2 linked regions of the Homo sapiens genome follow. The protein of the gene in region 2 purifies or fractionates together with the protein of the main gene of each other region. This does not show direct contact. Each region holds a gene or a part of one and is shown on either strand. Other genes may lie near its edges.

Region 1 (4,121 bases), on a different chromosome or scaffold from region 2:
ATGCTTGTAAAATGTTTGTAAAATCATAAAAGATAAAGTGTTTTTTTGTTTTGTTTTGTTTTTCTTGTCATTGTGGAAGTGACGTTAGTTCTTTTGGCAAAGGCTTCTGAGAACATCAAGTTTAAGGATTTAGTTTAGAATAGACTGTTCCACAACTGTTCTGAATTCCACTTGCTAAGTGTTCGGGTGTTGTGGTTAAGGTGAGGACTGGGCAATGTGGGTAGATCAGAGTAAACTCATCAAAACAATTCCAAGGGACCCTAGGATGACACTACTCTGGGTATGTCTACACCTCTTTATATTGGAATGACAACAATATCATGAATATTCACTCTAATCCATTGTATTTGCCACCATCATCTCTCTCTTACAGTAATACAACTTTATCCCCTTTTCTCTGCCTTTGGTAATGGCCCTCTTCAATGTATTCTACTTCTGGCCTAGGATGATCTGGCCTTTGTTTATCTATCCAGCCTCATTCTTTGCCACCTGTCCCCTACACCAGCTGAGCTTCACCGTCTCCCTCTTTGCAGACGTTGGTCCCTTGAGGCCCAGCCTACATCACTGCTCTTTCTCTGGTTGGCTCCTACTTGCCTTTCAGGATTAAATATTACTTCATTCAGAAAGCCTGGTTTATAGAAAGTGCTCAATAAATGTAGGTATTATTATTATTTTAAAATAATAGAAGTAAAAATGCATCCTCGGTGTGATTATTGAAAAAGTGGATGAATGAGATGGGTATTTGTTGAGTGGATGGGTGACTGGGACATGGGTTCTATCACTTTAGCAACTCTCCAAGGTGAAAGGACTTAAAGTGTGTTCAGGCTGGGCGCGGTGGCTCACGCCTGTAATCTCAGCACTTTGGGAGGCCGAGGCGGGCGGATCACGAGGTCAGCAGATCGAGACCATCCTGGCTAACATGGTGAAACCTCGTCTCTGCTAAAAATATAAAAAAATTAGCCTGGCGTGGTGGCAGGCGCCTGTAATCTCAGCTATTCGGGAGGCTGAGGCAGGAGAACCGCTTGAACCCGGGAGGCGGAGGTTGCGGTGAGCCGAGATCGTGCCATTGCACTCCAGCCTGGGCAACAAGAGTGAAACTCCATCTCAAAAAAAAAAAAAAAAGTGTGTTGAGAAAAGTTTCACTTCAGATGACGCCGGGAATGTAAACCGTTTTCTCTTCCATTCTAACTCGGAGCCATCCCCGCTTTCTCCGCCCAGCTGGAATTTTTGAAGCGAGAAAATCGACTCGCTCGGTGTTCGCCCGCCGACGCCGCACGGCTTGCTGGGGCTGGGCTCTTCCTCGCGGAAGTGGGGAGGAGGCGGTTGCGGTTAGTGGACCGGGACCGGTAGGGGTGCTGTTGCCATCATGGCTGACCCCGACCCCCGGTACCCTCGCTCCTCGATCGAGGACGACTTCAACTATGGCAGCAGCGTGGCCTCCGCCACCGTGCACATCCGAATGGGTACGTTGTCCCCTCTCCAGTGCCTCCCAGCCGCTTGTCTGCACTGCTCGGCCTCTAGAAGCCGACTTCCGGCTTCCGAGGGAGAGCGGCCATCTCCTGGGACTCACAGGGAGTGCTCACTGAGCTCCCGGCCCTCCTTCTCCGGGTACCAGAGGACTGGCGCCCTCCTCAGGGAGTCGGGGAGGCGCTTCCTCCCCTCCTAGCGGGTGTGGGAGGGCGCCAGGCCCAGAAGGCTTGCGGCTGTCCTGTGTGCGCCCCGGCTCCCCAGCGGGCGCCGCGGTGTAGGAAGGGACAGATGGAAACCGCCGCAGCCTGAATTTGGCATCTTGAAGTGAAAAGAAACGTCGTGGAAATGAGTCGGTTGATCACTGTGACTGACGTACACACGAGTGGAATCCACGGCCTGATGTTTTTGTTCTGTGGGGTTTCGCGTTACAGGCTTATATTTACCGTCCTGTGCTAGGCTGGAAGCTCCCTGACGGCACTATTTCCTCTCCGCAGGGCCCAGAATGCAACAGGTCTTTGAGGATTATTGAGGAAGTTGCTCAACACAGAAGCTTCCTAAGTCAGTCTAAATTGTGTTTTAAGTTATTACGTAGTAGCCAATGGGCAGAAATTTTTGAATTTAAAATGCTCAGCTTCATCTACGTGGAAGCCATTGCCTGCTCTAGTTTGGTCATTTGATCGCCGAAACAGCCCCAGACTTTCAGCCTGTTTAGGCAGCTGGAACTTGTTCTGGAAAAGGAAAGATGAAGATAGTTCTGATGTGCTAAGAATCTTAGTGCCTAGAACTTGTTCTGGAAAAGGAAAGATGAAGATAGTTCTGATGCACCAAGAATCTTGGTGCCTAGCATTTATATTTTTGGAATTGAATTTTGAAATTATTTTGGCCAGTGAACTCAGCTTTTTTTTAAAAAAAATTAATTGTGGTAAAATACAGGTAACATAAAATTTACCGTCTTAACTATTTTTAAGTGTATAGTTCAGTAGTGTTAAGTTATTCACATGGTTGTGCACTGTTAAAAGAAAAACTTTAGACACATTAAATCTAACGGAGTTTGAGCACAGAATGATTTGCGAATTGGGCAGGTCCCGGAACCAGAATAAGGTTCAGAGTGATGAGTCCTGCCGCTTGGTGGGAGAAAATTTATGGAGAGAGAAAGTAAAGTGAGGTACAGAAAATAGAAGTGAGGTACAGAAAGAGTTGATTGGTTACAGCTTGGTTTTTGCCCGTTTGAACATGGTTTGAACACGTGGCCATCTTTGGCTGAAACTCAGTGATTGGTTCAAGCGTAGGTTACAGCCTGTTTACTAGGTTATAGTTCACTATATACCGAGAACCCCTAGGCTGAACTTAAAATATCTAAAGGCATAGCTTTAGACTAAACTTATATACCATCCAATATCCAGAACTTTTTAATCTTGCAAAACTGAAACTCTATACCTATTAACTCCCCATTCCTTCCTTCCCCCAGTCCCTGGAACCACCATTTCACTTTCTCTCTCTGTGAATTTGGCTACTCTAGATACAATCAGTATTTGTTTTTTTGTGGTTGGCTTTTTTCAATTAGCATAATGTCTTCAAATACATCCATGTTGTGGCATATGTCAGAATTTCCTTTTTTTTTTTTTTTGAGACAGGGTCTCGCTTTGCCACCGAGGCTGGAGTGCAGTGGTGAGATCACTGCTCACTGCAGCCTCTACCTTCTGGGCTCAGGTGATCCTCCCGCCTCAGCCTCTCGAGTAGTTGGGATTACAAATGCAGGTCACCAGGCCTGGCTAATTTTTTTGTACTTTTGGTAGAGACGGGTTTCTCCATGTTGCCCCATCCGATCTTGAACTCCTGGACTCAAGCGATCCTCCCACCTCAGCCTCCCAAAGTCCTGGGATTACAGGCATGAGCCACTGCACCTGGCTGCAGAATTTCCTTTTTAAGACAGTAGTAGTACTTTGTATGTATATACCAAATTTTGTTTATTCATCCATTGATGGACATTTGTGTTGCTTCTACCTCTTGACTACTTTGAATAGTGCTGTCATGAATATAGGTGTGCACATACCTCTTCAAGACCGTGCTTTAATTCTTTTGAATATATACCCAGAAGTGGAATTGCTGGATTGTGTGGTAGTTCTATTTTTAATTATTTAAGGAACGGCCATACTGTTTTTGATAGGGGCTACATCATTTTACATTCTCAGCAACAGTGCACAAGGGTTCACCTTTTTCTACATCCTTGCCAACACATTCCGTTCTTTTCTTTCTTTTTAAAATGAAAATAGCCATCAAATGAGTGTGAGGTGGTATGTCCTTTTGGTTTTGATTTGCATTTCTCTAATGATTTAATGATGTTGCACATTTTAAAAGTATGCGTGTGGGGCATTTATACATTTTCCTTGGAGAAATGTTATTCAAGTCCTTTGCCCAATTAATTTTTTAAAAGCAATTTTAGGTTCATAGCAAAATTTAGCAGAAAGAACAGAGTTCTTATATACCCTTTCTGCTTTTCCCCAAGCCTCTTGCACTAATAACGTTCTGTACCAGAGTGGTATGTTTGTTACAATCAGTGAACCTAGACTGGACACCTCATTATCACCCAAGACCAAGGTTTACGTTAAGGTTCGCTCTTAGTGTTGTATATTCTATGAGTTTGACAAATG
Region 2 (4,836 bases):
GTGTAGTGGCACATGCCTGTAATCTCAGCTACTCGGGAGGCTGAGGCAGGAGAATCGGCTTGAACCCGGGAAGCGGAGGTTGCAGTGAGCCAAGATCACGCCACTGCACTCCAGCCTGGGTGACAGAACAAGATTCTATCTCAAAAAACGAAACAAAACAAAACAAAACAGGTCATCTACTTTTAAGTTAACACATTTGTTCGGTAAGTAGGGCAACTTGCTGGGTGCCGTGGCTCATGCCTGTAATTCCAGCACTTTGGGAGGCCAAGGCGGGTGGATCACAAGGTCAGGAGTTCGAGACCATCCTGACCAACATGGTGAAACCCCGTCTCTACTAAAAATACAAAAATTTGCTGGGTGTGGTGGCACGCCCCTGTAATCCCAGCTACTCGGGAATGCTTGAACTAGGGAGGCGGAGGTTGCAGTGAGCTGAGATCATGACACTACACTCCAGCCTAGGGGACAGAGCGAGACTCTGTCTCAAAAAAATAATAATAATTAAATAAAAATAAAGAGGGCAACTTATATATGTACTGTTCAAGGTAGGCTTTTGAAATACCTTGAGAATAACTGCAATTGGACTAAATCCAGAACATCTTAAAGTCTAGAATTACTGGAAAAGAAGGTAGTGATGACAGAATTTTGTGAAGGCAATTAGACATGCCCAGCAGGCAACACGAATAATTAAGTTAACGGGAAAAGTTTTTTCATTTGCCTCCAATTTGAGACCTTAACTGAATTAACTACCAGTGCTGAATGGATTGATAGCCTACAGAACCCTTAATTATCTTACCCATTATAGATAAAGTAATGTCACACTTTTGCTGTTAACGGACCTTAAGTTTCTTTCTTACAGACCACAGTATCTTTTCATGGAGAGCTGTACTTTGAGAATACATATGTCCAGGGCTGGAGACTTTTCACTGTAATATATAGTTACACCTGTGCTGTCACAAGGTTCCTTAGGAACGAATAAGAAGTCAAAAGAACTAAGAAAGTGCCGGCCGGGCGTGGTGGCTCACGCCTGTAATCCCAGCACTTTGGGAGGCTGAGGCGGGCGGATCAACTGAGGTCAGGAGTTTGAGATCAGCCTGACCAACATGGAGAAACCCCGTCTCTTAAAATACAAAATTAGCCTGTAATCCCAGCTACTCGGGAGGCTGAGGCAGAAGAATTGCTTGAACCCAGGAGACCTCGGAGGTTGCAGTGAGCTGAGATCACGCAATGATTGCACTCCAGCTTGGGCGACAGAGTGAGACTCTGTCTCGAAAAAATAAATAAACTCAGAAATTATGACCAAATAAGAAGGAGGAAAATTAGTATATATCCTCCTATGTTTTCATATAATGTATATATATATTTTTTGAGATGGAGTTTCTCTCTCTTGTTGCCCAGGCTGGAGTGCAATGGTGCCATCTTGGCTCACTGTAACCTCTGCCTCCCGGGTTCAAGCAATTCCCCTGCCTCAGCCTCCCGACTAGCTGGGATTACAGGCATGCACCCCCACGCCCGGCTAATTTTTTATTTTCAGTAGAGATGGGGTTTCTCCATCTTGGTCAGGCTGGTCTCGAACTCTTGACCTCAGGTGATCCACCTGCCTCAGTCTCCCAAAGTGCTGGGATTACAGGCGTGAGCCACCGTGCCCAGCCGACACAAATATGTTTAAAGTCAAACACATTTCTACAGTATCAACAGTTGTGTAGTATAACCAGTTCTGGGAAGCTCCCTCTTAAGAATTCCTAACATTTCGTATGACAAATAGCAAGAAGATGAATACACTTTGTAGTTAAATCTTTATATATCCTTTATTATTTCCTTGATAAATTCCTTTCTTTTTTTTTTTAGAGACGGAGTTTCTCTCTTGTTGCCCAGGCTGGAGTGCAATGGTGCGATCTCAGCTCACTGCTACCTCCGCCTCCCGGGTTCAAGCAATTCTCCTGCCTGGGCCTCCCAAGTAGCTGGGATTACAGGCATGTGCCACCATGCCCAGCTAATTTTTTTTTTTTTTTTTTTTTTTTTGAGACAGAGTCTTGCTCTGTCACCCAGGCTGGAGTGCAGTGGCGCTGTCTTGGCTCACTGCAAGCTTTGCCTCCCGGGTTCACGCCATTCTCCCGCCTCAGCCTCCTGAGTAGCTGGGACTACAGGCGCCTGCCACCACACCCGGCTAATTTTTTTGTATTTTTAGTAGAGACAGGGTTTCACCGTGTTAGCCAGGATGGTTTCGATCTCCTGACCTCGTGATCCGCCCGCCTCGGCCTCCCAAAGAGCTGGGATTACAGGCGTGAGCCACCGCGCCTGGCCTAATTTTTATATTTTTAGTAGAGACAGGGTTTCACCATGTTGGCCAGGCTGGTCTCAAACTCCTGACATTGCATGATCCACCCGCCTTAGCCTCCTAAAGTGCTGGGATTACAGGCATGAGCCATCACACACGGCCAAGATAAATTCTTAAAAAAGAAAGAAAAAAAAAAAAGAGAGAAAAAAGAAAAAAGATAAATTCTTAAATGGAATTGCTGAACAAAAGTGTATCATGTACAATTTGTAAGGCCTTGAATAAATGCTGCCAAAGTAGCCTCTAGAAAGATTTTAACTGCAATGTACATTCCTTCTAGTTATATAAGGACTCATTTTAGGCATTTTAACAAATTCAAAAATACAGAATATTCTGATACCTCAGCAATAGCCCACTCATTTACAGAACAATTTTAGCATTATTATTTCACTGACCTTAACAACCTCTAGGATACGAACTGTACTAGCAAAATCATTTAACCGTCTGCATGCCCGCAAAGCAGCATCAATGATTTTGGGCTCTGGAACCATATCATAGGTAACAAGTGTGTTTATCCCTGCAAAATTAAAAAGAAGGGCCATGTCAACCTCGAAGAGCCTCACTTAAACTATGAGTTATTTATATTTTTACTGAATCACTGATGTATGATCTTATCTGTCTGGGTCTCCATTCTCTTACCTATAAAATGAGAGAAACCTACCTTTAACAAATTCTAGATAATAAGATCACAGTGGATCTCCCTTAGTGAATCAGTGGAAAGAAAGAACTATGCAACAGCACGCAGATTGAAGGAAAAAATCCTGAGTTTTTTTTTTCCCCTTTGAGAACAAGAGGGTCATTTTCAACTCCTAACTTTTTTTTTGGAGATGGAGTCTTGCTCTGTCACCCAGGCTGGAGTACAGTGGTGCCACCTCAGCTTACTGCAACCGCTGCCACCTGGGTTCAAGTGATTCTCCTGCCTCAGCCTACCAAGTAGCTGGGATTACAGGCGGGTGCCACCAAGCCCAGCTAATTTTAGTATTTTTAGTAGAGACGGGGTTTCAGCATCTTGGCCTGGCTGGCCTTGAACTCCTGACCTCGTGATCCACCTGCCTCGGCCTCCCAAAGTGCTGGGATTACAGGCATGAGCCACCACATCCGGCCCTCCTATCTTTAACTCTTAGTACAATGAACACATTTTGGATGCTTTAAAAGAGATTCAAGGCTGGGCTCAGGTGGATCACCTGAGGTCAGGGGTTCAAGACCAGCCTGGTCAACATGGAGAAACCCTGTCTCTATTAAAGATACAAAATTGGCCGGGCGTGGTGGCACATGCCTGTAATTCCAGCTACTCTCGAGGCTGAGGCAGGAGAATCACTTGAACCCAGGTGGTGGAGGTTGCAGTGAGCTGAGATCGCGCCATTGCACTCTAGCCTGGGCAATAAGAGAGAAACTCCATCTCAAACAAAACAAAACAAACAAACAAAAAAACCAAAATAAAAGAGATTCAACTGGAAAACAGCCTAAAAACAGCCAGAGAAATGCGTAGAGTTAATGAAGCCTAAATGAGGACATTAAGGAGATATTATAGAGAAACATTAGTACACAGACTCATAAACATTCAACCAGAAAATGATTGGGCATGATTACTTTCAGATCTGCACAAAATGACACATAATAAAATTTAAGATTCTCTTAATGGGAATACATAATTGTTCTTTTTATTACTTCTACTCCAGATTGTTCAGTAAGAATTCTATTGGTTGTAGCAAAAGGGAATCATTACATTTCTGCAGAGAAGTTTAAAGCACTTAGGTTTCTTGCTTTTATTACTTTAAAATATTTAAACAAAGGATACCAGTGAATACGATAGTCATTGAGATTGAATTTTTGGTATGAGATAAATTACCCTACACCTAATTCTATTTTTTCATGTTAAGTGTGCATCTGCAAATTTAGGAAAGACAAGTTCTAACTTACTTAGATACTTATTCATGGCAAAACAATGCAAAAATAACAAAAAACCCAAACCATCACCCAAAGGGGAAGGGAACCAAATGACTGCTTTGTGTAAATTCTTTTTTTTTTTTCTGAGACAGAGTCTCACTCTGTTGCCCAGGCTGGAGTGCAGTGGCGCGATCTCGGCTCACTGCAAGCTCTGCCTCCCGGGTTCACGCCATTCTCCTGCCTCAGCCTCCCGAGTAGCTGTGACTACAGGCGCCCGCCACCACGTCCGGCTAATTTTTTTGTATTTTTAGTAGAGACGGGGTTTCACCATGTTAGCCAGAATGGTCTTGATCTCCTGACCTCGTGATCCGCCCACCCTGGCCTCCTAAAGTGCTGGGATTACAGGCGTGAGCCACCGCGCCCGTGCTATGTAAATTGTTTGAAATGTACAAAACTGTTACCTTTTGCTCATCTAGCCTTATTGCTATAGCAGTGGTTTTCAATTAAGGGTGACTTCATCCCTCAGGAGACACTGGGTAATGCCTAGAAACATTTTTGGTTGTCATGATACGAATGTGTGCATACTGGCTCCTAGCAGGTAGAGGCCAAAGGTGATG

The links. Proteins that work in one complex are often made in the same cells at the same time.
Region 1: the proteins of COX5A (region 2) and TMBIM4 purify together in Homo sapiens (co-immunoprecipitation; one large-scale study listed by IntAct). This does not show direct contact.

Annotation. Positions count from the first base shown.
Region 1 is NC_000012.12:66,167,197-66,171,317, reverse strand, and holds the start of TMBIM4 (protein lifeguard 4), read left to right. Parts: upstream 1-1,321; 5' UTR 1,322-1,366; coding exon 1,367-1,463; intron 1,464-4,121.
Region 2 is NC_000015.10:74,924,039-74,928,874, forward strand, and holds part of COX5A (cytochrome c oxidase subunit 5A, mitochondrial precursor), read right to left. Parts: intron 2,850-4,836; coding exon 2,728-2,849; intron 1-2,727. UniProt on the Homo sapiens protein: Component of the cytochrome c oxidase, the last enzyme in the mitochondrial electron transport chain which drives oxidative phosphorylation.